3 linked regions of the Homo sapiens genome follow. The protein of the gene in region 1 purifies or fractionates together with the protein of each later gene. This does not show direct contact. Each region holds a gene or a part of one and is shown in the gene's direction. Other genes may lie near its edges. The genes, in order: ERI2, FLNC and DNAJC12.

The links.
Region 2: the proteins of ERI2 (region 1) and FLNC purify together in Homo sapiens (affinity purification with mass spectrometry; 2 studies listed by BioGRID and IntAct, with this or other methods). This does not show direct contact.
Region 3: the proteins of ERI2 (region 1) and DNAJC12 purify together in Homo sapiens (affinity purification with mass spectrometry; 3 studies listed by BioGRID and IntAct, with this or other methods). This does not show direct contact.

Annotation. Positions count from the first base shown.
Region 1 is NC_000016.10:20,803,010-20,811,372, reverse strand, and holds the start of ERI2 (ERI1 exoribonuclease 2), read left to right. Parts: upstream 1-4,900; 5' UTR 4,901-4,942; coding exon 4,943-4,965; intron 4,966-7,702; coding exon 7,703-7,770; intron 7,771-7,856; coding exon 7,857-7,940; intron 7,941-8,363. Other genes in the region: REXO5 (RNA exonuclease 5), read right to left, coding at 4,282-4,419.
Region 2 is NC_000007.14:128,846,675-128,854,405, forward strand, and holds part of FLNC (filamin-C), read left to right. Parts: intron 1-70; coding exon 71-231; intron 232-1,022; coding exon 1,023-1,190; intron 1,191-1,270; coding exon 1,271-1,394; intron 1,395-1,886; coding exon 1,887-2,043; intron 2,044-2,118; coding exon 2,119-2,308; intron 2,309-2,506; coding exon 2,507-2,530; intron 2,531-2,656; coding exon 2,657-2,904; intron 2,905-3,301; coding exon 3,302-3,400; intron 3,401-3,487; exon of another isoform or gene 3,488-3,709; coding exon 3,710-3,809; intron 3,810-4,128; coding exon 4,129-4,269; intron 4,270-4,557; coding exon 4,558-4,686; intron 4,687-4,726; exon of another isoform or gene 4,727-4,780; coding exon 4,781-4,954; intron 4,955-5,916; coding exon 5,917-6,078; intron 6,079-6,153; coding exon 6,154-6,357; intron 6,358-6,610; exon of another isoform or gene 6,611-6,723; intron 6,724-6,794; coding exon 6,795-6,947; intron 6,948-7,040; coding exon 7,041-7,163; intron 7,164-7,299; coding exon 7,300-7,542; intron 7,543-7,731.
Region 3 is NC_000010.11:67,835,189-67,843,306, reverse strand, and holds the start of DNAJC12 (dnaJ homolog subfamily C member 12), read left to right. Parts: upstream 1-5,118; 5' UTR 5,119-5,295; coding exon 5,296-5,373; intron 5,374-8,118. UniProt on the Homo sapiens protein: Probable co-chaperone that participates in the proper folding of biopterin-dependent aromatic amino acid hydroxylases, which include phenylalanine-4-hydroxylase (PAH), tyrosine 3-monooxygenase (TH) and peripheral and neuronal tryptophan hydroxylases (TPH1 and TPH2).

The DNA of each region.
Region 1 (8,363 bases):
CTTGTACAGACACCTTTGTACATCTATCTACTTTCTTAGGATCAATTCCTGGTTCAAATGAACTCCTGAAAGAATATGCCAGTTTGTTTTTACCAAATAAAAACATGAGATTAATAAGGTGAGACTGAGCAAGATGGAGTCTATATGGCGGTGAGTAACCCTGGTTGCCAGGCATGGGATGTCAAGAGCCTGAGTTGGGTGAGGAAGGTGTCCTGTAGAGGAGACAGTCCAGGACTAGGAGCAGAAGCTGAGGACATTCATGCAGGAGGGTGCTCTGGTGTGGGGTGTCAAAGCCTCAGCAGCACAAGGACGTCACCCATACAGGAAGGAAGGGAGGGCAGTGAGTCCTGACATCAGATGTCAGAAACTATTTAGGGTAAGGAGGGCATCAATGCTGAGGGACAGTAGTGGCCTGTTGCAGGGTTTAAAGCCTGAACAGGATGAGGGTATAAACCTGAGAGGGATGGTGGCAGCCACCTGTCATAGGATGAGGGTGCTCACAAAGGAAGATGACCTGGTACAAGGTGATGGAGCCAGTGCAGGGTGACAGAGCCTAAGCAGAGTCAAGAGGGTGTGAGGGTGGGTCAGCGGCAGCAATAAGGATTGATCAAATATACTGAAGATGTTGGGTGTCGGGTTTCTCATTGTTAGTGAAGGAAGTTACAAATATGAAAATGGACTGGGCGCGGTGGTTCACGCCTGTAATCCCAACACTTTGCGAAGCCGAGGTGGGCAGATCACTTGAGGTCATGAATTTGAGACCAGCCAACATGGTCAAACGCCATCTCCACTAAATGTACAAAAATTAGCCAGGCGTGGTGGTGGGTGCCTGTAATCCCAGCTACTCAGGAGGCTGAGGTAGGAGAATCGCTGGGAGGGAGAGGTTGCAATGAGCAGAGATCATGCCACTGCACTCCAGCCTGGGTGACAGGGCAAGACTTTTGTCTCAAAAGAAAAAAAAAAAGGAGAAAACTAGAATGAATAGAATGAACCCTGTATTACTGGATTTGGATTAAAGTGGAGATACTGATGTGAATTCACATAAGTAAAATACAGAAAAATATTTAAATGTAAGTATGTGTGTGTGTATACACTTTCAACTTACAAAATTTTCAATTTACGATGGATTTATTGGGACGTAATCTTATTTTAAGTGAAGAAGCATCTGTATTAACATCACCATAGCACCCAAATCTAAATATCATTCTACACTAAAAAGAACCAGGTACCCTAAGAGAAATGACTGATTCCAGGCTTGGGGCAGGGAAAGCACATATGAGCCTGGAATATCTTCTTGTGCCAGAAAGTAATGACATGCTCAAAGAATGATGTTGTCATGTCAAAAGGCCACAGAAGCTAGCTTAATGACAAAATCTTGGATATTTAAAGCATCACAATCCAGTAAAAGATAGTAACACACTGAACAAAATAGGTACCACTGAGTTCATCATACTGATAAAAAAGTAAATGCATAAGCCCAAAGTGTTTGAGGAAGCACATTACAGACAGCTGGGAGCAGTGGCTTGGGCCTGTAACCTCAGCTACACTGAGGCTGAGGTGGGAGGATTGCTTTAGCCCAGGAATTCCAGACTAGCCTGGGCAATATAGCAAGATCCTGTCTCAAAAAAATAAGAATGAAAATTACACAGAGAAAAAGATAACTTTAGAGAACTTTAGTAGAAACTATCTTAATCTAGTTATCAAGGTTAATATCACCAATAATGGGACAAATCAAATTGTGTACAATCTGCAAGGGAGCAGAGTATCACTCCTGTGATATTCCTGCTAAAGATGTATATAACCTGAATCTAATCAATGAAGAAACAGACAAATCTAATTTAAGGGACATTCAACAAAATAATTGGCCCAGGATTATTCAAATGCAGTAAAGTCATGAATATCAAGGGAAGACTAAGGAACTGTTTGATGGAGACATGACAATTAAATTTAACACAATTCTAGACTGGATCTTATTGCTAAAAAGCGTTATTCAAACAACTACAGAAAATTTGGATGGCATCTGAGGAGTAGATGGTCATGATATATCCATGGTAATTTCCAATTTTGATGGTTGCATTGTGATTATGTAGGTTTATAGAGAATATATAATAAAATATCTTGAGGGTGGGTAGAAAAAGACCATTGTGTCAGCAACTACTTTCAAATGTTGGTTGAGGGGAGGTTTTGATACTATTCTTACAACTTTTCTAAAAGTTTGAGATTGTTTCAACATAACAAAATATGTGATTGTCAATCTCCTTACACTAACCACATAAACATTAAACATTTTTTTGCAAATTTGATAGGCAAAAAAACTGGAATCCCACTTTAATAAAAAAAATTTTCAGCTGGGTGCAGTGGCTCACACATGTAATCCCCAGCACTATGGGAGGCTGAGGCAGGTGAATCTCCTGATCCCAGGAGTTGGAGACCCTGTCTCTCTTTAAAAAAAAACAAACGAAAAAAAAACAAAAAAAAGCAGTGGCTCATGCCTGTAATCCCAGAACTTGCAGAGGCCAAGGTGGACAGATCGCTTAAGTCCAGGAGTTCAAGACCAGCCTGGGCAACATGGCAAAACCCCGTCTCTACAAAAAAAAGAAAAATTAGCTGGCACAGTGGCACACATCTGTAGTCCCATCTAATTGGTGGAACTGAGGTGGGAGGATCACTTCAACCTGGGAGGCAAAAGTTGCAGTGAGCCAAATCCAGCCTGGGCAACAGAGGGAGACTCCACCTCAAAAAAAAAAAAAAAAAAAAAAATCACATCCCTAATCCCTCTCTCACATATTATAACTTATTTTTATCATTTGTCTCTGCCCACTAGAATATAAGACCTACTAGGGCAGTGAACTTGATTCACTGATGTACCCCAAGCACCTAGGTCAGTGCCCCAGCACATGGCAGACAATAAAAACCAATGAATAGCTGGGTGCAGTGGCTCATGCCTGTAAGAGGCAGAGACAGGAGGATCCTTGTCACACCACTGTAGTCCAGCCTGAGTCCAGCAGAGCAGAGACCCTGTCTCAAACACAAAAACAAACAAAAAAGCCCAATGAACGACTGAAGGGATGAATGAAGTATATTTAGTTCTCAGTAAATGGTAAGGATGATAGGGATAATCAGCCTTTTTATTCCCCTATTGCAGCGGTCCCCAACCGTTGGCACCAGGGACCGGTTTCGTGTTAGATAATCTTTCCACTGACTGGGAGAAGGGCTGGGGGGATGGTTTCGGGGTGATTCAAGTGCATTACATTTATCATTAGAGTCTCATAAGCAGCATGCCACCTAGGACCCTCGTATGCAAAGTTCACAATAGGGCTCACAATAGGTTTGGCACATTCCTATGAGAATCTAATGCCTAGGTGGAGCTCAGGGGGTAACGTTCTATCGGCCACCGCTCACCTCCTGCTGCTTTGTGGCCCGGTTCCTAACAGGCCAGCTGTGGACAGTGGGTTGGGGACCCCATGGACAGGCAGGTACTAGTCTGTGCACAGGGGGTTGGGGACCCCCGCCCTACTGGAATGTAAACTGCACGAGGGCAAGGAATTGTATTTTTGTGCCCCAGGATATCGATGAACATTCCTATTATGTACAGGCAGTTTTTTTTTTGTTTTGTTTTTTGTTTTTTTTTTTTAAGAGATGGGGTCCTTGCTATATTGCCCAGGCTGGTCTTGAATTCCTGGCCTCAAATGATGCTCCCGCCTTGGCCTCCCAAACTGCTGGGATTACAGGCGTGAGCCACTGCACCCGGCCCACCATCCCAGTTTTTTTTTTTTTTTTTTTTTTTCTGAGACGTGATTTCTTTCTTGTTGTCCAGGGTGGAGTGTAATGGCGTGGTCTTGGCTCATTGCAACCTCTGGTTCCTGGGTTCTAGCGATTCTCCTGCCTCAGCCTCCCAAGTAGGTGGGATTACAGTCACCCACTACCACGCCTGGCTAATTTTGTGTGTGTGTTTTTGGTAGAGACGGGGATTTCTCCATGTTGACAAGGCTGGTCTCGAACTCCTGACCTCGTGATCCGCCCGCCTCGGCCTCCCAAAGTGCTGGAATTACAGGCATGAGCCACCGCACTCGGCCGACTCACTATCCCAGTGACAGCCAATGACAGCCTTGTTGCAGGAAGGTGGTATTACACTCATTCCCATTTTAATGATCAGGGATCAGGTTCGGAGAGGCCAGGGCGGAGAGCCCGCCCGAATCCAGTGCCCCCGACGGCGGTTGGGCGAGGGTCCGGGAGCTCCAAACCGCCTAGGGCCGCCTGCTCGGGATCCCCGTTGCTCACCTTGGCCTCGGGCTGACTCTCCTCGAGATCCCAACCGGCTTTCATCGCCTCAGCTGCCCCGACCAGCTTATTTGGGGCCTGCCTGCTTTCCCTGACCTTCCTGGGGTGTCTCTCGGTCCCTTCCCTCTCTGGCTCCATGGCTGTGGAGAAAGATGAGGTAGAGCTGGGGAAACTCCAGCGCCCCTATTCCCCCGCGTGCCGCCTCCTAGCGGGAGAGCTACACGGGCTTGACAGCTTTCAACCTCCCTCGGATCCGCTTCTCAATTCAGTTTACCGAACTATCCCCGTTCCCCTAAAAAAGCGAAGGTGCCAACGATCTCCCCGTTCCGCGGACTGGACACCCGCGCCGCTCTAACCCAAACGGCTTTACCGTCCGCATCGGTTACCGGATTCTCAACGGTTCCCCAACGGCTACAACGGGCGTCTGCCTGGCAAAGAAGGAAGGTGCTGCCGAGCGGCTTCGCCGCCTAAAACCACTCCCCACGCCCCCTAGCCCGGGAAACGCAGAAGAGAAGACGGGCGGGGAGCAGAGGTTCTCCCCTCCTTAGCCACAGCTGCCAACAACAACCGCCCCTCAGCCTCGCGGGCTTTTTGAACGGACCGGAAGTAGAAGTCGAGCGACTTCCGGCAGCTGGACTTGGAAAAGCAAGGAGTGTCGGGAATGGCGACCAAGCGGCTCGCGCGGTACTCGAGGGAGTTCCGGGTCGGGGGCGGGTAGCTCCGGGTCCAGCGCTGGCGTTGGCCGCAGAGCAGGGCACGGCAGGTGGCATCTGCGGTGAGGGCCTCTATTCCCCGCAGCCCCGGCGTCTGCGACCTGCCCTCTCTGGCACGGTTGGAAAGGCGCCTCCCTGGACCTCGGTCTTCAGCCTTGGGCCACCTTCTACCCGAGGGTGACAGGAGCCCGAGGCGGACGAACCCTGGGGCCTTGACTGTGTGGCCTTGAGCCAGTGCCTGCCTATTTTAGGCCTTGGGAAACGACTGGACGTGACAGTGCCCTGCAGACTGGTTGGAGGTCTCAGGCAGGCCACACACTGAATCTGTCAAGGTGTTCAACCTGTTCGAAATGCTCGTTCCTCGGTGCTGTAAAGAAATAGAACTTAAACTTAAATTTAATTTATTTAGTAAGGCCATTTTTACTTCCTGCAGAAAGGGTACACTCGCCAGCAGTTTTGCCAGGAGAGTACACTGAACAAAGGAGACAGGGTCATTTATAACGTGGCGCGTCCACCCTACTGCTGTGTCCGGTTTCCTTTGGCTGGAACGGGACCTCACATTCTGTATTTGTCCCGACTGACTAGCAACATAGAACTTTTTAAAAGAGGCAAAGGCAGAGGAGAACAAAGGAAGAAGGAAGTAACTTGTGGAATGCTGAGAAAGGTAAAAACACTTTTAAGTAAGGAAGAGGAACAGGCTATGACCTAATGTTTGATTGGACCAGTATAAGCATGCCAGGGCAAATATTTAGGCTAAATTGTGGGAGCTAAGAACATAAAGTACATTGATTTCTTTATTATATCTAGCAGATATTTAAGAATGTTAGCACAGGTCTTTGAATAAATTTTGCTCTAAGAGAAGTTACTATTTATTCCTAATTAGACGGGGAAGGAAGTCTTTGAAGAGGAACCTCTACTTTTTACAAACCCATTTTCTAGTGATCTTTTTTTTTTTTTTTGAGACGGAGTTTTGTTGCCTAGGCTAGAGTGCAGTGGTGCGATCTCGGCTTACCATAACCTCTGCCTCCCGGGTTCAAGTCATTCTCCTGCCTCAGCCTCCCAAGTAGCTGGGATTACAGGCATGCACCACCACACCCAGCTAATTTTGTATTTTTAGTAGAAATGGGGTTTCTCTATGTTGGTCAGACTGTTCTCGAACTCCCGACCTCAGGTGATCCACCCGCCTCAACCTCCCAAAGTGCTGGGGTTACAGGTGTGAGCCACGGTGCCTGGCCTAGTGATCCTTTTAATTCACAATATGAATTATTGTGTCCTCCCTGATTCCTGGATGCGCTGTGCATATTTCTGATTACTAGAAAGATGTAATATAATAGCAAATAGCATGAGCTTCAGAATTGGACAGTCTTGGGTTCACATACCAAAGCTATGTTCTTTGGCAAATTAAGAATCAGTTTTCTCATCCATAAAATATAGGTAGGAAAAGTTTCTAGCTACTACACTTGTTGAGGATTAAAGGAGGCCATCATCTTAGTTTAATTTTAGTACCTGCTATGTAGTAAGCAGTCAATAAATGATATTTATTATTCCCAAATCCTGGCACTTCCCACTCTTAGCAAACACAGAAAACTACAGGAGGTGTCTGCCTAGTTAAAACTCTACCTGCTAATACCAAGTAGTTTGTTTTACTTGCACTTAAGACCTCAGTAAGCTCTTCTCTTTTTTTCTTATTTTATTTTATTTATTTATTTTTTTGAGACAGGGTCTCGCTCTGTTGCCCATGCTGGAGTGCAGTGGCATGATCTCGGCTCACTGCAGTCTCCACCTCCCGGGCTCAAGCAATCCTCCCACCTTAGCCTCCTGAGTAGTTGGGACTACAGGTATGCACCATCACGCCCCAGCTAGGTTTTATAATTTTTGTAGAGACGGGGTTTCACCATGTTGCTCAGGCTGGTCTCGAACTCCGGAGCTCAAGCAATCCACCTGCCTTGGCCTCCCAAAGTGCTGGGATTACAGGCATGAGCCACTTTACCTGGCCCTATCTTTTGTTTCTTTACCCAGATTTTTAAACTGGAAGACTGAACCATGTCCTACATTGTCTTGTCTTCTTAAAACTGCACTGTACACATAGCAAGAGCTTAAAAAATGCAGGGGGAAAAATAAGATTTTCAGTGCATTTTTACCTCTACAATCAAATGATTGTAGGAACTCAAATGAGTTACTCAGTATTACTGTAAAACAAGGGTAACATAAAATTAGTGTAAATTGGCTGGACACAGTGGCTCAGGCCTGTAATCCCAGCACTTTGAGGGGCTGAGGTGGGAGGATTGCTGGAGCTCAGGAGTTCGAGATGAGCCTGGGTAACATAGTGAGGCCCTGCCTTCAAAAAAAAAAAAAAATTAAAACTAATGGGCCGTGGTGGCATGCATCTGTAGTCTTAGTCAGGAGACTGTGGTGGGAGGATTGCTTGAGCCCAGGAGATTAAGGCTGTAGTGAGTGGTGATCATACCACTGCACTGCAACCTACGTGACAGAGCAAGACCCTGTCTCAAAAACAAAACCAACAAATTAGCCTAATTTGCAAATATGTACTTTCGAGGCCTGTGCAGGTAAAGCCAAAGTCCAGTTCGATTTCCCCTCAGTCACAATAAATAATGAGATTGTTGCCCAGTACCATTAGTTTGGTAGCCTACTCAAACAGGAGTGTGAATGAGTTCATTGATCATATTTGGATTGCTTCACATTTTTAGGCAGCTTGGATTAATTAGGAGAAAGTCAATTGCGCCAGCAAATGGAAATCTCGGAAGAAGCAAATCCAGTGAGTAGTATGCTTAGTTTCTTTGCATTTTGTAGCCTTGCATTTTCAGCACTGGTAAAGCATAAGAACAACTTGATCTTTTGCAGAGCAGTTGTTTGACTACTTAATTGTCATTGATTTTGAATCGACATGCTGGAATGATGGGAAGCACCACCATAGCCAGGAAATAAGTAAGTCTGGGCTACGAATGGCCAAAGCTGGCACTAGATGAGTCACTTTAAAGTTTATAGATCTGAATCAGCCAAAAGTTTAAGAAAACAGGATGGTCTATGCATTGGTAGTTTAATGCAAAACTTATGTTGAATAAAAAAGAGCAAAATCTCAAATACCTAAATGTGTTATTATATAAAATAGTTGTTTTATATTACATACAACACCTCAATGGCATAGAAACTGAAAAAAATGCCTTTGCAAAAAAAGTAAATTTTATATTCCATATGGTTTTTATATTTATTTAATTATATTGTTTTCTTTTAAGACAACATGCTCATAACTTCAATATTTTGACTTTAGCATAACTTTATTATAACCTTTATGTCACACTGCTTTGGTCATTTTAGTATGCTTTTACTGAAAACTGGTTGTTTAATTAA
Region 2 (7,731 bases), on another chromosome or scaffold:
CCCCATTCAGCTACTCCCTCATCCTCACTCACTGGTCTTATGAAGCTGATGGGGGGATGTTATCTCTCAGGGGAGCGGGCACCGGGGGCCTTGGCCTAGCCATCGAGGGTCCCTCGGAAGCCAAGATGTCCTGCAAGGACAACAAGGATGGTAGCTGCACCGTGGAGTACATCCCCTTCACTCCTGGAGACTATGACGTCAACATCACCTTCGGGGGGCGGCCCATCCCAGGTGTGCAGAGAGAGTGGTCGGGGTCTCAGGGAAGACAAGGGAGGGTGCAGGATGCTCGCCCCACAAGGGGGAAACTGGAAGGAAGTTGGGTAAGAATGTTCATAGAGAGGACAGCCTAGAGTGGGTTGGGGCCGGAGCCCGGCCAGAGGGAGGACGTGGAGGAGGCAGGCAATGAGGGTTGATGTGACAGCCCCCCTAGTCAATCACAGGAACACACTCTGGCCTCCTAGCCCCTTGTCTGGAGCTCAAGACCTTGGCTTTGCAGGTCCACCACTCACTGTGTGTCCAGAAACTCAGACACAGTCCACTCCTCTTGGCGGCTCAGGCCAGCCTTGGGCCTTCTTGCACGCATCGTCTGCAGAACTCCCCTGCCCTCTGCAGACCCAGCTGCCCGGGCAGGTCATGTCTTCAAATATTGTATGACTTGGGACTGCTGAAATTGGAAATTTTTTCCCTTATCTAATTTCCCATCTTTTTATTATTTCAGCCACAGTGTCAGAAATACATTTCATTTTTGAAAACATTTTATTTTCACATTTTATTAATTTAGGAAGGCCTTCTCTTCCAGGCCTGGGACCCACATGAGTGAGGTTTGCCCAGCCTCAGTCTGCAGTCAAGTTCATTTATTCTTGTGTGTGTTTTCTTAGCAAGTTCCTAGCCATTTTCCCATGTTGGTCTGGCTTCCCTGTGGGCATTTCAAAGGCAGGGAAGGCCTCCTCCTCCGAGGCTCCTCAGCATCAGGGGGACCCATCAGGGCTGGTGGGCAGGGTCTAATGTCCTTCTCCTCACAGGGAGCCCGTTCCGCGTGCCAGTGAAGGATGTGGTGGACCCTGGGAAGGTGAAGTGCTCAGGGCCAGGGCTGGGGGCTGGTGTCAGGGCCCGGGTTCCTCAGACCTTCACAGTGGATTGCAGTCAAGCTGGCCGGGCGCCCCTGCAGGTGGCTGTGCTGGGCCCCACAGGTATAGAATGGCCGGGGCAGGGAGGAGGGAGGTGGGGCGGGACGCCCGGAGGCTCTGCTGACCCTGTGCCCCTTGCCCAGGTGTGGCCGAGCCTGTGGAGGTGCGGGACAATGGAGATGGCACCCACACTGTCCACTACACCCCAGCCACTGACGGGCCCTACACGGTAGCCGTCAAGTATGCTGACCAGGAGGTGCCACGCAGGTGAGGACCAGCCCTGGGCTCCTGTGCTGCGGCTGAGCTCTGGGGTGCTCCTGCTGGGGTGGCACTCAGGATCACTGCTGGAGTCCCCTGGGAGAGCCTCTCCCAGCTCTCAGCCTCGTCCAGTCTCGCCACCCCATCCCGCTCTTCCCCGGGGCTCTCTGCTGTGAGGCTTTCCTGCCCCAGGAGCTTTTACGGCAAACCTAGCGCCTTAGGAAGAGTGCAGGAGGCCTGGGCCAGGGCCTCCTCCTGGACCCTCCCACAGCACCTTCCTGGGGAATGGAGACGTACCCTGGCTCTGTCGAGGGAGTCCCAGAGTGCCCCCACCCCCAGACATGGAATGTCATCGGCTTCTGGGAACTGGTCCCTCCTCCCTGCCCCACAGTCCTCCCTCCTGCCCATGTCTATGGGGAGGACTCTGGCTCAAGATGAGATCACCCCCCACCGCCCCGTCCATGCCACCCAGCCAACTGTTTATCCCTTCTGCTCCTCAAGCCCCTTCAAGATCAAGGTCCTCCCAGCTCATGATGCCAGCAAGGTGCGGGCCAGCGGCCCAGGCCTCAACGCCTCTGGCATCCCTGCCAGCCTGCCTGTGGAGTTCACCATCGACGCACGGGACGCGGGCGAGGGGTTGCTCACTGTCCAGATCTTGGTGAGTCTCTGTGCATCCCACCCCGCAGGTCATGCTCCAGGCACAGGCGGGCCTTGACCTCTGCTTCTCCCTCAGGACCCCGAGGGTAAGCCCAAGAAGGCCAACATCCGGGACAATGGGGATGGCACGTACACTGTGTCCTACCTGCCGGACATGAGTGGCCGGTACACCATCACCATCAAGTATGGCGGTGATGAGATCCCCTACTCGCCCTTCCGCATCCATGCTCTGCCCACTGGGGATGCCAGCAAGTGCCTCGTCACAGGTGGGTGCCCACCCGCTGCCCGTGCCCTGCTCACCACCCAGCCCCTCAAAGCCCCTCCAGAACCCTGGCCTGGTCCCCAGGGGTCTGCTGGTCGGAGAGCACACATGCCCTAGCCCTGGCCCCTCCCTCCCTCACCCCCGCCCAATGCCCCAGCCCACGTTGAGCACCGCCTGGCCTCACACTCTTCTCTCTTTCCAGTGTCCATTGGAGGCCATGGCCTGGGTGAGTGCCCTTTCTCTCCTCTTCTTGGTGTGGGCCAGGGTGGTTGGCGGTAGGGGGCGGGCAGCGGGAACAGAGAGGGCTGGCTCCAGCCCACCAGCTCCCTGAGCAGGATCTCCCGCATGGCAGGTGCCTGCCTGGGCCCTCGAATCCAGATTGGGCAGGAGACGGTGATCACGGTGGATGCCAAGGCAGCCGGTGAGGGGAAGGTGACATGCACGGTGTCCACGCCGGATGGGGCAGAGCTCGATGTGGATGTGGTTGAGAACCATGACGGTACCTTTGACATCTACTACACAGCGCCCGAGCCGGGCAAGTACGTCATCACCATCCGCTTCGGGGGTGAGCACATCCCCAACAGCCCCTTCCACGTGCTGGTAAGTTCTGTAGCCACAGCAAGACTAGATGGCTGGGGAGGGGGGCCTGGCCCTTTTAGCAGCAGCAGGGATCCCAGATAACTGTCCCCAAGGAATCCCACTTCTCTGAGGGCTCCTGGGGCCAGAGTGCTCCAGGATGGAGCCTTAACTTTCCCCACAGCACCCCCGAAGTGGGAGGAGAGCATGGCCCTGCCCCCTGCCCAGTGCTGTCAGCTGTCTCTGGAGGAACCCGCTGTGCTCTCCACCATCCCCAGCTCCATCTCCCCAGAGGCTGCCCTGCAGGAGGATGAACACCCAAATTATCACCCAGCATTTCAGGTTCCTGGGCCATTCTCTGAGTCAGCCCCTAGGCCTGTGAGGCTGCCACACCCTGTGCCCCCGTGCCTTGCCTCCCCAGGCGTGTGACCCCCTGCCGCACGAGGAGGAGCCCTCTGAAGTGCCACAGCTGCGCCAGCCCTACGCTCCTCCCCGGCCCGGCGCCCGCCCCACACACTGGGTACTGCGCCTCCCACCAGGCGATGTCCTCCTCCTCCTCCCCTTCCTTCATTTCTTCTCTCTACTCCTCTGCAGCCAGGGCGGGGACATGGTCTGGGGGCCTCTTGGGGAGCAGGCAAGAGTTAGGCTGGGCAGATGGAACCCCACTTGGGCACAGCACTCCTTCTCTTGCAGCTGACGCACCTCTCCTGCCACGCTGGTTTCATGATTAACTACCTTGTTCTTTCCTCACTCTCCAGCTTCAGTCATAGCATGGGTCAAACTCCTGGGCCTTCCCCAGTCACTGACTGTTCCCTCTCACCTGCTGCAGGCCACAGAGGAGCCAGTGGTGCCTGTGGAGCCAATGGAGTCCATGCTGAGGCCCTTCAACCTGGTCATCCCCTTCGCGGTGCAGAAAGGGGAGCTCACAGGTACTGCCCTGTGGCTCCCAGGCATGAGGGCTGAGGGGAGAAACCCTCTTCCAGGCCCAGTCCTGTGTCTTAATGATGAAAACAAAGGCCCAGAGAGAGGAAGTGAGCTCTACCCAGGGTCACACAGCAAGTTGGGCAGAGCCAGAACTCAGGTGCAAGCCATCTGTCCCCAGTTCAGGGCTCAGGCCACTGCCACAGGCTGTCTCTTGATGCCTGGCTTCTCGGGTGGCAGCAGAAGCACTCAGGACCAGGCCTGGGACAGCAGGGAGGTTGCAGTGGGGGAAACCAGGGTCTCCACGTAACTGTGTCTGCCCTGCAGGAGAGGTGCGGATGCCCTCGGGGAAGACGGCACGGCCCAACATCACCGACAACAAGGACGGCACCATCACGGTGAGGTATGCACCCACTGAGAAAGGCCTGCACCAGATGGGGATCAAGTATGACGGCAACCACATCCCTGGTGAGTTAGGGGCTGGGCTGGGCTGGGGCTTGGGTGAGAGGAGCAGGCCGTAGCTTCAGTCCTGCCTTCCCTCTTTCAACAAATATTTATTGAGCACCCGCTGTGTGCAGACACCAGGCGAGGCCCCAGGGAGGCTTATACCCTGGTGGGAAGCAGACCTCCACCAGCTGGGTCCCTACGGCACAGACGGAGGGGGTTGGCAGGGAGGCTGCTGGAAGGTGCTGGGGCCAAGGTGGGCTCAGATAATCCCTGATGCTGACCCAGCCCCCTTTTTCTCTGTATCCCCAGGGAGCCCCTTACAGTTCTATGTGGATGCCATCAACAGCCGCCATGTCAGTGCCTATGGGCCAGGCCTGAGCCATGGCATGGTCAACAAGCCAGCCACCTTCACTATTGTCACCAAAGATGCTGGAGAAGGTGAGGGAGCTGCAGGTCGCAGGCTGGGGTGGAGACTCACCAGGGGCAGGGGTGAGGGCAGGACCTCTGATCTTGGCCACACCTCCACCTACAGGGGGTCTGTCACTGGCCGTGGAGGGCCCATCCAAGGCAGAGATCACCTGTAAGGACAACAAGGATGGCACCTGCACCGTGTCCTATCTGCCGACTGCGCCTGGAGACTACAGCATCATCGTGCGCTTCGATGACAAGCACATCCCGGGGAGCCCCTTCACAGCCAAGATCACAGGTGAGGCGGGTGTATGGGCATGTACAGCCCATGAGGCACACACACCGCATACAGTGCACTCATGTGCAAGCCCAGCCCGTTCAAGTCACTCGTGACATTAGGGCAGAGGCCCTTCAAGGTGTGAGGGGTCATATTTTGATAAATGTAAAAACACTCTGTTCTCCACGGCAGCTAAGAAGCAGTCAGCCACTCCTTGTGCCTGAAAACACATTGCCTCATTTAGTCTTTGAAGTCATTTGTTTTGTTTTTGTTTTTGAGAGGGAGTCTTGCTCTGTCACCCAGGCTGGAGTACAGTGGCACGATCTCGGCTCACTGCAACCTCCGCCTCCCGGGTTCATGCCATTCTTCTGCCTCAGCCTCCCAAGTAGCTGGGACTCCAGGCGCCCGCCACCATGCCTGGCTATTTTTTGTATTTTTAGTAGAGACAGGGTTTCACCGTGTTAGCCAGGATGGTCTCGATCTCCTGACCTTGTGATCCACCTGCCTCGGCCTCCCAAAGTGCTGGGATTACAGGTGTGAGCCACCACGCCCAGCATGAAGTCACTCTTAAGAAGTTAGGGCACGGATAATCCTTTTGATAGATAAGGAACCCCTGTCCCAGAGAGGCCAAGCAACATGATTACAGCCACACAGCGAGGAAGGGGTCTGGGCGGTCCAGTCTAGTGTTTTGTTATCACAACATCATGTGACTCAGGGTTAAAATGCAGGAGGTTTCCTTTAGGGATTTAGCCCACAAGGACTGAGGCAGCCACAGTGGAATTGGGGTACAGGCCCCTCTTAGTCTCTGGCAGCTCACATGTGAGTGCAGACTGCACTTTCCAGGCCTTGGGCCTCCGTGCACCTGGGAGTGGCCCCCCGTGTCTGTTGAGTCCAGGGGGGGCTGCTCAGGAGGGTTCCTGAGCCCTGTGAGGGCAGGGCCTGCCTGGAGTCATAGCAGCCTGATGCCCCAACTCCCCCACCAGGTGATGACTCCATGAGGACCTCACAGCTGAATGTGGGCACCTCCACGGACGTGTCACTGAAGATCACCGAGAGTGATCTGAGCCAGCTGACCGCCAGCATCCGTGCCCCCTCGGGCAACGAGGAGCCCTGCCTGCTGAAGCGCCTGCCCAACCGGCACATTGGTGAGCGTGGGGCCTCACGGGGACCTCAGGGGTGGGGGCCCACAGGATGCTCTGCCTAACACCCACTTTCCACAGGGATCTCCTTCACCCCCAAGGAGGTCGGGGAGCACGTGGTGAGCGTGCGCAAGAGTGGCAAGCATGTCACCAACAGCCCCTTCAAGATCCTGGTGGGGCCATCTGAGATCGGGGACGCCAGCAAGGTGCGGGTCTGGGGCAAGGGGCTTTCCGAGGGACACACATTCCAGGTGGCAGAGTTCATCGTGGACACTCGCAATGCAGGTACCTCCTGCCCCAGAGAGCCCCCATTCCAGCGGGTGCCTCCCACAGGCACTTGTCCTCGTCCTGCCCAGCACCCCCTTGGCCGCACTCTCTCCTCCCTGAAACTTCCTGACCAGTCTGCGTCAGGATTCGCATTCTGGGGCCCCTTGCGGGAAAGTGAATGGCCCCGCATCAGTTCTCTCCCTTTTAAGAGAAAGCTCAGCTGTCCTGAGTTTCTGTCCCTCCCTTGCTCACTGGAATCCAAGAGGCTTACCTTAGGGAATTTTCCAGACCGCCTGTCCCGTGGTGCCCCCGCTCCTCCCACTGAGCCATTTTTGTTAGTGGTCACTACACACATCGGTGCCCATTCTGGGTGGAGCCTGCAGTCTGGGGAGAGGAAAGCATTGTGGCTTGGCCAGCCTAGGACTGAGGGAGATGTGTTCCTTGCTTTCCCCCAGGTTATGGGGGCTTGGGGCTGAGTATTGAAGGCCCAAGCAAGGTGGACATCAACTGTGAGGACATGGAGGACGGGACATGCAAAGTCACCTACTGCCCCACCGAGCCCGGCACCTACATCATCAACATCAAGTTTGCTGACAAGCACGTGCCTGGTAAGGCTCTGGGCAGAGGTCGGTGGCGAGAGACAGGGAGGCCAGGAGGCTGGGGCTCTGAGGTTCCTGACCCACCCTTTGTCCCCACTTCAGGAAGCCCCTTCACTGTGAAGGTGACCGGCGAGGGCCGCATGAAGGAGAGCATCACCCGGCGGAGACAGGCACCTTCCATCGCCACCATCGGCAGCACCTGTGACCTCAACCTCAAGATCCCAGGTAGAAGCCTGGAGGACCCTGGGTGGGGCGGGTGGTGGGAGAGGGCTGGCCCGGGCCAGAGCCCACCTGTCGGGCCTCCACCCTGCTTCCTCACCCCTCGCTTCCCTCCCTCACCCTGGCTCCCTTGACCACACAGGAAACTGGTTCCAGATGGTGTCTGCCCAGGAGCGCCTGACACGCACCTTCACACGCAGCAGCCACACCTACACCCGCACGGAGCGCACGGAGATCAGCAAGACGCGGGGCGGGGAGACAAAGCGCGAGGTGCGGGTGGAGGAGTCCACCCAGGTCGGCGGGGACCCCTTCCCTGCTGTGTTTGGGGACTTCCTGGGCCGGGAGCGCCTGGGATCCTTCGGCAGCATCACCCGGCAGCAGGAGGGTGAGCACCGCACACTGGGCCGGCCGGGTCCTCACGGCGGGATGGGAGGGTGCTGCGGACCAGGCTTGATGCTGGCAGACTGGCCCCGAAGGCCAGGGCAGGTCTGAGCAGAGGAGGAGGTTTAACTGATGGGGGAGGGAAGGGCCAGGGCTAGGAGGAATCCCAGTGTTGCCCTGACATCCCCCAAAC
Region 3 (8,118 bases), on another chromosome or scaffold:
CACATTTTTATAAAGAAATACCTGGCCAGGTGCAGTGGCTCATGTCTGTAATCCCAGCACTTTGGGAGGCTGAGGCAGGCGGATCACAAGGTCAGGAGTTTGAAACCAGACTGGTCAGTATGGTGAAACCTTGTCCCTACTAAAAATACAAAAATTAGCTGGGCATGGTTGCTTGTGCCTGTAGTCCCAGCTACTTGAGAGGCTGAGGCAGAAGAATCGCTTGAACCCGGGGGGTGGAGGTTGCAGTGAGCCAAGACTGCGCCGTCGCACTCCAGTCTGGGTGACAGAGCAAGACTCCATCACAAAAAAAAAAAAAAAGAAAAAAGAAATACCTAAGTCCGGGTGCAGTGGCTCATGCCTGTAGTCCAGCACTTTGGGAGGCCAAGGTGGGTGGATCACGAGGTCAGGAGTTCAAGACCAGCCTGGCCAAGATGGTGAAATCCCATCTCTACTAAAAAATACAAAAAATTAGCCAGGTGTGGTGGCAGGCGCCTGTAATCCCAGCTACTCAGGAGGCTGAGGCAGAGAATTGCTCGAACCCAGGAGGCAGAGGTTGCAGTGAGCTGACATTGTGCCATTGCACTCCAGCATGGGCGACAGAGTGAGACTCTGTCTCAAAAAAAAGAAAAGAAAAGAAAAGACATACCTGGGACTGGGTAATTTATAAAGAAAAGAGATTTAATTGGCTTATGGTTCTGCAGGCTGCACAGGGAGCATAACACAGGCATCTGCTTTTGGGGATACCTCAGGAAGCTTGCAATCACAGCAGAAGGTGAAGGGGGAGCAGGCATCTCCTATGGTGGGAGCAGGAGCAAGAGAGACAGAGAGTGAAGTGATACACACTTTTGAACAGCCAGATCTCAGAGAAGTCACTCATTTTTGTGAGGACAGCATCAAGAGGATGGTGCTCAACCATTCATGAGAAATCCAGTCCCATGATCTGATCACTTCCCACCAGGCCTTACCTCCAATACTGAGGATTACAATTCAACATGAGATTCAGGCAGGGAGACTTTCCAAACTATGTTAAAGTTCCAACCTCCCATTTCCCCTCTGCACTGCCCTAGTAGAGGCTCTTGGTGAGGGCTCTGTCCCTGTGGTAGGCTTCTTCTTGGGTACCCAGGCTTTCTTATATATTCTCTGAAATCTAGGAGGAAGCTGCCAAACCTCCTTCACTCTTGCATTCTGAACACCTGCAGGCTTAACACCACATGGAAGCCACCCAAGGCTTACAGCCTGCACCCTTCTGAGCTGTGGCCTGAGCTGTACCTGGGCCCCTTTGAGCTGAGGCTGGGGCTGAAGTGGCTGGATGCAGGAAGCAGCCTCCCATAGTGGTACAGGGCAGCAGCACCCTGAGCCTGGCCCCCTAAATCATTCTTTTCTCCTGGGCCTCTAGGCCTGTGATGAGAGGGGCTGCCTCTTAGATCTCTGAAATGCCTTTGAGGTTTTTTTCTCATTGTCTTGTCTATCAGCCTCTGACCTGGCTCCCTTTCATTTATGCAAATCTCTTTAGCAAGTGGTTGCTCTGCAGTCTGCTTAGATTCTTGCCCTGAAAATGGGTTTTTGTTTTCTACCACATGGCTAGGTTGCAAATTTTCCAAACTTTTACATTCTGCTTTCCCTTTAAATATAAGTTCCAACTTTAAGTCATTTCTTTGCTTCTGCATCTGAGGATAGGCTGTTAGAAGCAGCCAGGTCACTTCTTGAACACTTTGCTGCCTAGAAATTTCTTCTGCCAGATACCCTAAGTCATCACTCTTAAGTTCAAACTTCCACAGATTCCTAGGGCATGAATACCATATAGCTTTGTTCCTTGGTAAGGCATAACAAGAGTGACCTTTATTCCAGTTCTCAATAAGTTCCTCATTTCCATCTGAGACCTCATTAGCCTGGACTTCACTGTCCATATCACCGTCAGCATTTTGGTCACAACCATTTAACCAGTCTTGCAGGAGTTCCAAACTTTCCCTCATCTTCCTGTCTTCTTGTGAGCCCTCCAAAGTCTTCCAGCCTCTGCCCATTACCCAGTTTCAAAGCTGCTCCCACTTTGTCAGGTATCTTTATAGCAAGGCCCCACTCTTTGGTACCAATTTTTTGTGTCAGGCCATTCTTGCATTGCTATGAAGGAATACCTAAGACTTGGTAATTTATACTGAAAAGACGTTTAATTGGCTCACAGTTCTGCAGAATGTGGAAGCATGGAGCCAGCATCCGTTCAGCTTCTGGGTAGGCTTCAGGGAGCTTTTACTTATGGCAGAAGGTGAAGTGGGAGTAGACATGTTACATGGTGAGAACAGGAGTAAGAGAGCCAGGGGGAAGATACCACACACTTTAAAAACTTTTAAGCCGGGTACAGTGGCTCACCCCTCTAATCCCAGCACTTTGGGAGGCCACGGCGGGTGGATCACCTGAAGTCTGGAATTTGAAACCAGCCTGACCAACATGGAGAAACCCCATCTCTACTAAAAATTCAAAATTAGTCGGGCATGGTGGCACATGCCTGTAATCCCAGCTACTCAGGAGGCTGAGGCAGGAGAATCACTTGAACCCAGGTGGAGGTTGCGGTGAGCCAAGATCACACCATTGCACTCCAGCCTGGGCAACAAGAGTGAAACTCTGTCTCAAAAAAAAAATTATATTATTAATATAAAAATAAGGACAGAGTCTCACTATGTTGCGCAGGCTGGTTTTGAACTCCTGGGCTCAAACAATCCTCCTGCCTTGGTCTCTCAAAGTGCTGGGATTACAGGCATAAGCCACTGCAACTGGCCAATACCACACTTTTTTGTTTGTTTGTGTTAGACAAGGTCGTGCTCTGTCACCCAGGCTGGAGTGCAGTGGTGTGATCTCAGCTCATTGCAGCCTCCACCTCCTGGGTTCAAGCAATTCTCGTGCCTCAGCCTCCCAAGTAGCTGAAATTACAGGCATGTGCCACCACACCCAGCTAACTTTTTTGTATTTTCAGTAGAGATGAAGTTTTGCCATGTTGGCCAGGCTGGTTTCGAACTCCTGGCCTCAAGTGATCTGCCTGCCTCGGCCTCCCAAAGTTCTGGGATTACAGGTGTGAGCCACCATGCCCAGCCCTAACATTCCATTTGTTTAGTCATCCGTTGATGGACACTTGCATTGCCTCCACTTTTTGGCTATTATGACTAATGCCTTGATGAACATGAGTATATAAATATCTTTTCAAGTTCCTGCTTTCAATTCTTTTGTGTATTTACCCAGAAGTGGAATTGTGGGGTCACATGGTAGTTCTATGTTTAATTTTTTGAGGAACCACCATACTGCTTTCCACCATGGCAACTTCACATCATTAAAAGGCCATTTATCAGTGATTTAGATCAAGATATTGTGATCTAATTTTTTTTTTTTTTTTTGAGATGGACCCTGGCTCTGTCACCCAGGCTGGAGTCCAGTGGCACGATCTCGGCTCGCTGCAACCTCCGCCTCCCAGATTCAAGCAATTCTCCTGCCTCAGCATCCTGAGTAGCTGGGACTACAGGTGCGTGCCACCATGCTTGGCTAATTTTTGTATTTTTAGTAGAGACAGGATTTCATCACATTGGTCAGGCTGGTCTCGAACCCCCGACCTCGTGATCCGCCCGCCTCGGTCTCCCAGTGCTGGGATTATGGCATGAGCCACCGTGCCTGGCCTTAAAATTCTATATAGAACTTTTAGCAAGACAGCATGTACAATGAAGGATTAGTAAAAAATGGTGTTTCAGTGCTTTTTCTTGCTTCTCTTCAGAAATAAACCTTTAAAAAGATGTATATAGGTGGGCTAAAAGAAAAACTATTTTTTCCCCTCAGGTGGGGGAATTTAAAGTGTTAAGGGCCAGGCATGTTGGCTCACATCTGTAATCGCAGCACTTTGGGAGGCCAAAGTGGGAGGATCACTTGAGTCCAGGGGTTTAAGACCAATCTGGGCAATATGGCGAGACCCTGTCTCTCTGAAAAATGAAACAAAAAAAGTGTTAAGGCAGTCAAAGTGTTGTGTCCCTGACCACTCACCTTGTTCTCTAAATCCCAGACCTGAACTGTGTTTCTTAGGGCCAAAATGAACTGAAACATAAATTGCCTGGACCTACCTCAGACTAGAGACACTCCTGAGTCTGGAGAACCAACCCAGGAGAAATAGCACAGCCATCTGACCCGAGTTATCATACAGTTCTTCTCATTGTCCTATTTTATTTTCTCTAAAGCACAAATCACTATTTTATTTTTTTATTTTTTGAGATGGAGTCTTGCTCTGTAGCGCAGTCTGGAGTGCAGTGGCACCATCTCGGCTCACTACAGCCTCTGCCTCCTGGGTCCAAGTGATTCTTCTGCCTCAGCCTCCCAAGTAGCTGGACTACAGGTGTGGGCCACCATGCCTGGCTTACAAATCACTATTTTAAATGATCGTGTTTTTTTTTTTTTTTTTTTTTTTTGCATGTTTTTCAGCTGTCTTCCTCCATCAGAGCGTAAGCTCCATAAAAATCAAGACTGTGTTATTGGCTGGGCGCTGTGGATCATGCCTGTAATCCCAGCACGTTGGGAGGCCGAAGCAGGCAGATCGCTTTGAGCTCACGAGTTCGAGACCAGGCTGGGCAACATGGCAAAACCCCCTCCTCTTAAAACATAACAAAACAAAAACCAAAAATTAGCTGGACATGGTGCTATGTGCCTGTGGTCCCAGCTACTAGGGAGGCTGAGGTGGGAGGATCGCTTGAGCTGGGGAGACAGAGGTTGCAGTGAGCTGAGACTGCACCACTGCACTCCAGCCTGGGCAACAGAGTGAGACCTTGTCTGAAAATAAACAAATAAAAAATAAAATTAAGTATTTTAAACACTAAGAAAAGCTCCCATTATCCTTATTAACACATCCTAAGATTTTACCACATTGCTTCACATTTTTTTTCTTTTTTTTTTTTAAAGGATAGAGACAAAAATATATAGGAGATGGAGAAGTGGCTAATGTGGCAAGTTTCTGAAAATAGACAGTCTTTATTAACTCATAAGACAAATGGTTCACATGCATCTCTTATATAAACTCAAACTACAGATCCCAGGCAGCACTGCAATAATAGACACGTGGACTGTTCTTTTCTTCTCTGTAAACAGCCAATGAGAGGCAGAGTTTACAAAGGTCTAGGATGACATCTGGTGTATTGACTGTGGCCAGTCTTAAAGCTAGTTTTTGCTATGTGGAACATGCTGCTCTAATTCAGATTTAAAGAGTTTCTTCCTGTTAATTCGAAGCTCACTGTGCCTCTTGTTTCCGAGGGAAGAAGGACTGATTAAGTCATCTAAATGGATGCAATACTGAATTACAGGTCAGAAGATACTGAAGATTACTACACATTACTGGGATGTGATGAACTATCTTCGGTAAGACAGTGGATAATATTTTTATCACAACAGTATTCTTTTTCACAATAGTATTTCAAGTTTTTATTTAAGGTTTTAACTTTGAATTTTTAGTCACATTGCCTACAAACCTAACCTTGTGTTGTTTTAAAGCACTTTTGGCTCAGAGAAAGTTAAGAATTTAAATGTATGTTGGGATTTTACTTGAATAGTGTCCTATGGGAATTTTACGGAAGCTTCTGATTAAATATGTGTATTCTGGCACATGGCCATATGCTGTTTCACAATATAGTATATTAAAAATAAATATTTGAAATTTTATTGTAATTTCTGATGGCAGTGTTTCACAGTATATATAAGCTATACCTTTATTATGGTGACTCATAATTGAGGTGAAATGAAATTTCTTATAAAATTAGGGATTTTAATATATTTTATTAAAATGTGTACTCCTATGTGAGCAGTCAAAATAGAAACAAAGAAGCATCCCTTTATGTTAATATTTCAAATTGTGTGACAGAAATTACTTCTTGAAAGGGTGGCTTCTGAAACAAAACATGTGAAAACTCTGTAGCTGTTCACTGGATCTGTAAGAAAACAAAATTTTTAAAGTTCTCAATAAACAATTATAAAGGTTGTAGAGGTTTTTTAAATTATGGAAAAATCATTTATAATTCTCTCTCCCAAGGATAACAGTATTAATATTTTGGCATATTAATCTCCACTATTCTTTCTATGTATATTCTTTAAAGACCTGTTTGGGAGGATATTATATGTACTTGTTGATTCCTGCTTTTTACCCATTCGTATTATAACAAGGAATTTTCCATGCTATTAAACTTTCCTTGTACACTTTTTAGTGGTTGCAAAATATTTTATTTTGCTGTGTTACCACAGTTGAATTATTCTCTTATTGTTAAATATTTTATTTCCAATTTTTCAATATTTCAAATAATGTTGAGATTAATATAAAATATATTCATTATTAAATTATATATTATTAAATCATGTTATTAGGATATATTTATGTTTTATAATTAATGTATTTTATTTTATTTATTTTTATTAAAATCTAAGTAGTAAAATTAACATTGTAAAGCAAAATGTTTTTATATTTATTGTTGTTTCATAAAGGCAGTAGTTCATTAATAAAATGTGCTTAGTTTTGTTTTAAGAATAGAATGCATTACTGGACACAAAGGATTAAAATCTCTATTTTTGCCATGCTGAGGAAGTTATCTTAGACACGTTGAAATTAAAAAAACTGCCCCGCCCCCAGAATAGCTTATAATGGTCTTTTAGTTGCATATTTCTTCTCAAGAATGTGTTATTCTTGTTTATGTTGGTGGTGATTTGCTTATAGCAATTGAGAAAGCTTATTACCATTTTTACCATGTGTTATTCACAGTTGAAATTATACTATTATCAAACAATTTTTGAAGGAATAATTTAAAATCAAAGGAATATAATTTAACTTGATAAGGCTGACAATTTGGATTTAAAAAAATACATGCTAGCTTATACAGTAAGGGTCATTATATCTCCATAATCTTGTGACCTATTTAGTCAGTCCTTTTTTTTTTTTTTCAATTTTACTTTAAGTTCTGGGATCCCTGTGCAGAATGTGCAGGTTTGTTACATAGATACACATGTGCCAGGGTGGTTTGCTGCACCTATCAACCCATCATCTAGGTTTTAAGCCCCGCATACATTAGGTATTTGTCCTAATGCTGTCCCTCCCCTTCTCCCCCACCCCCCGACAGGCCCCGGTGTGTGATGTTCCCCTGCCTGTGTCCATGTGCTCTCATTGTTCATCTCCCACTTATGAGTGAGAACATGTGGTGTTTGGTTTTCTGTTCCTGTGTTAGTTTGCTGAGAATGATGGTTTCCAGCTTCATCCATGTCCCTGCAAAGGACATGAACTCATTCTTTTTTATGGCTGCATAGTCAGTCTTTTGAAGTTATGCTGTTGTCTTTTCAATCTACATAGAAGGAGGATTCATTTTGGACAGCCTTACAGAAAATAATCTCGTTGTTAATGTGTAATATTCAAAATATGGTTACCAGGTGGAGTCATACTTCCTTGTCTCAACATTCCTTTTACTGGATGTATTTTACTGGTCTGTCAATGGCATATCATATCTAGATAACAATTATTTATTTTTAATGAAATGTTTGTCATAATATTGTCACTTCTTTATATATATGTGTGTGTGTGTGTGTGTGTGTGTGTGTGTCATTTTTTCTCTCTTTTTTTTGTTTTTTTGAGATGGAGTCTCACTCTGTTGCCGGGCTGGAGTGCAGTGGTGCAATCTCAGGTCACTGCAACCTCCGCCTCCCAGGTTCAAGTGATTCTCCTTCCTCAGCTTCCTGAGTAGCTGGGACTACAGGCACATGCCACCATGCCTAGCTAATTTTTGTATTTTTAGTAGAGACGGGGTTTCACCGTGTTGGCCAGGATGGTCTTCATCTCTTGACCTCGTGATCTGCCTACCTCGGCCTCCTAAAATACTGGGATTACAGACGTGAGCCACCGCACCTGGCTTTTCTCTTCTTTTTATAGGTATGCTTCTCATTTCAAAAATATTTTTATGACATTTTTGACTAATATGACATTTCCTTTACTTGATTTGTATTGGATAGATTGCCTTTACTTCAGGTATTCCTTCATTTGATGCTCTAAAATTAACCAGAACTCATCATGCCCGAAAGCATTTTAGCTGTTATAATTTCAAAACAATTTGATATTCTAATTTTACTTATCAC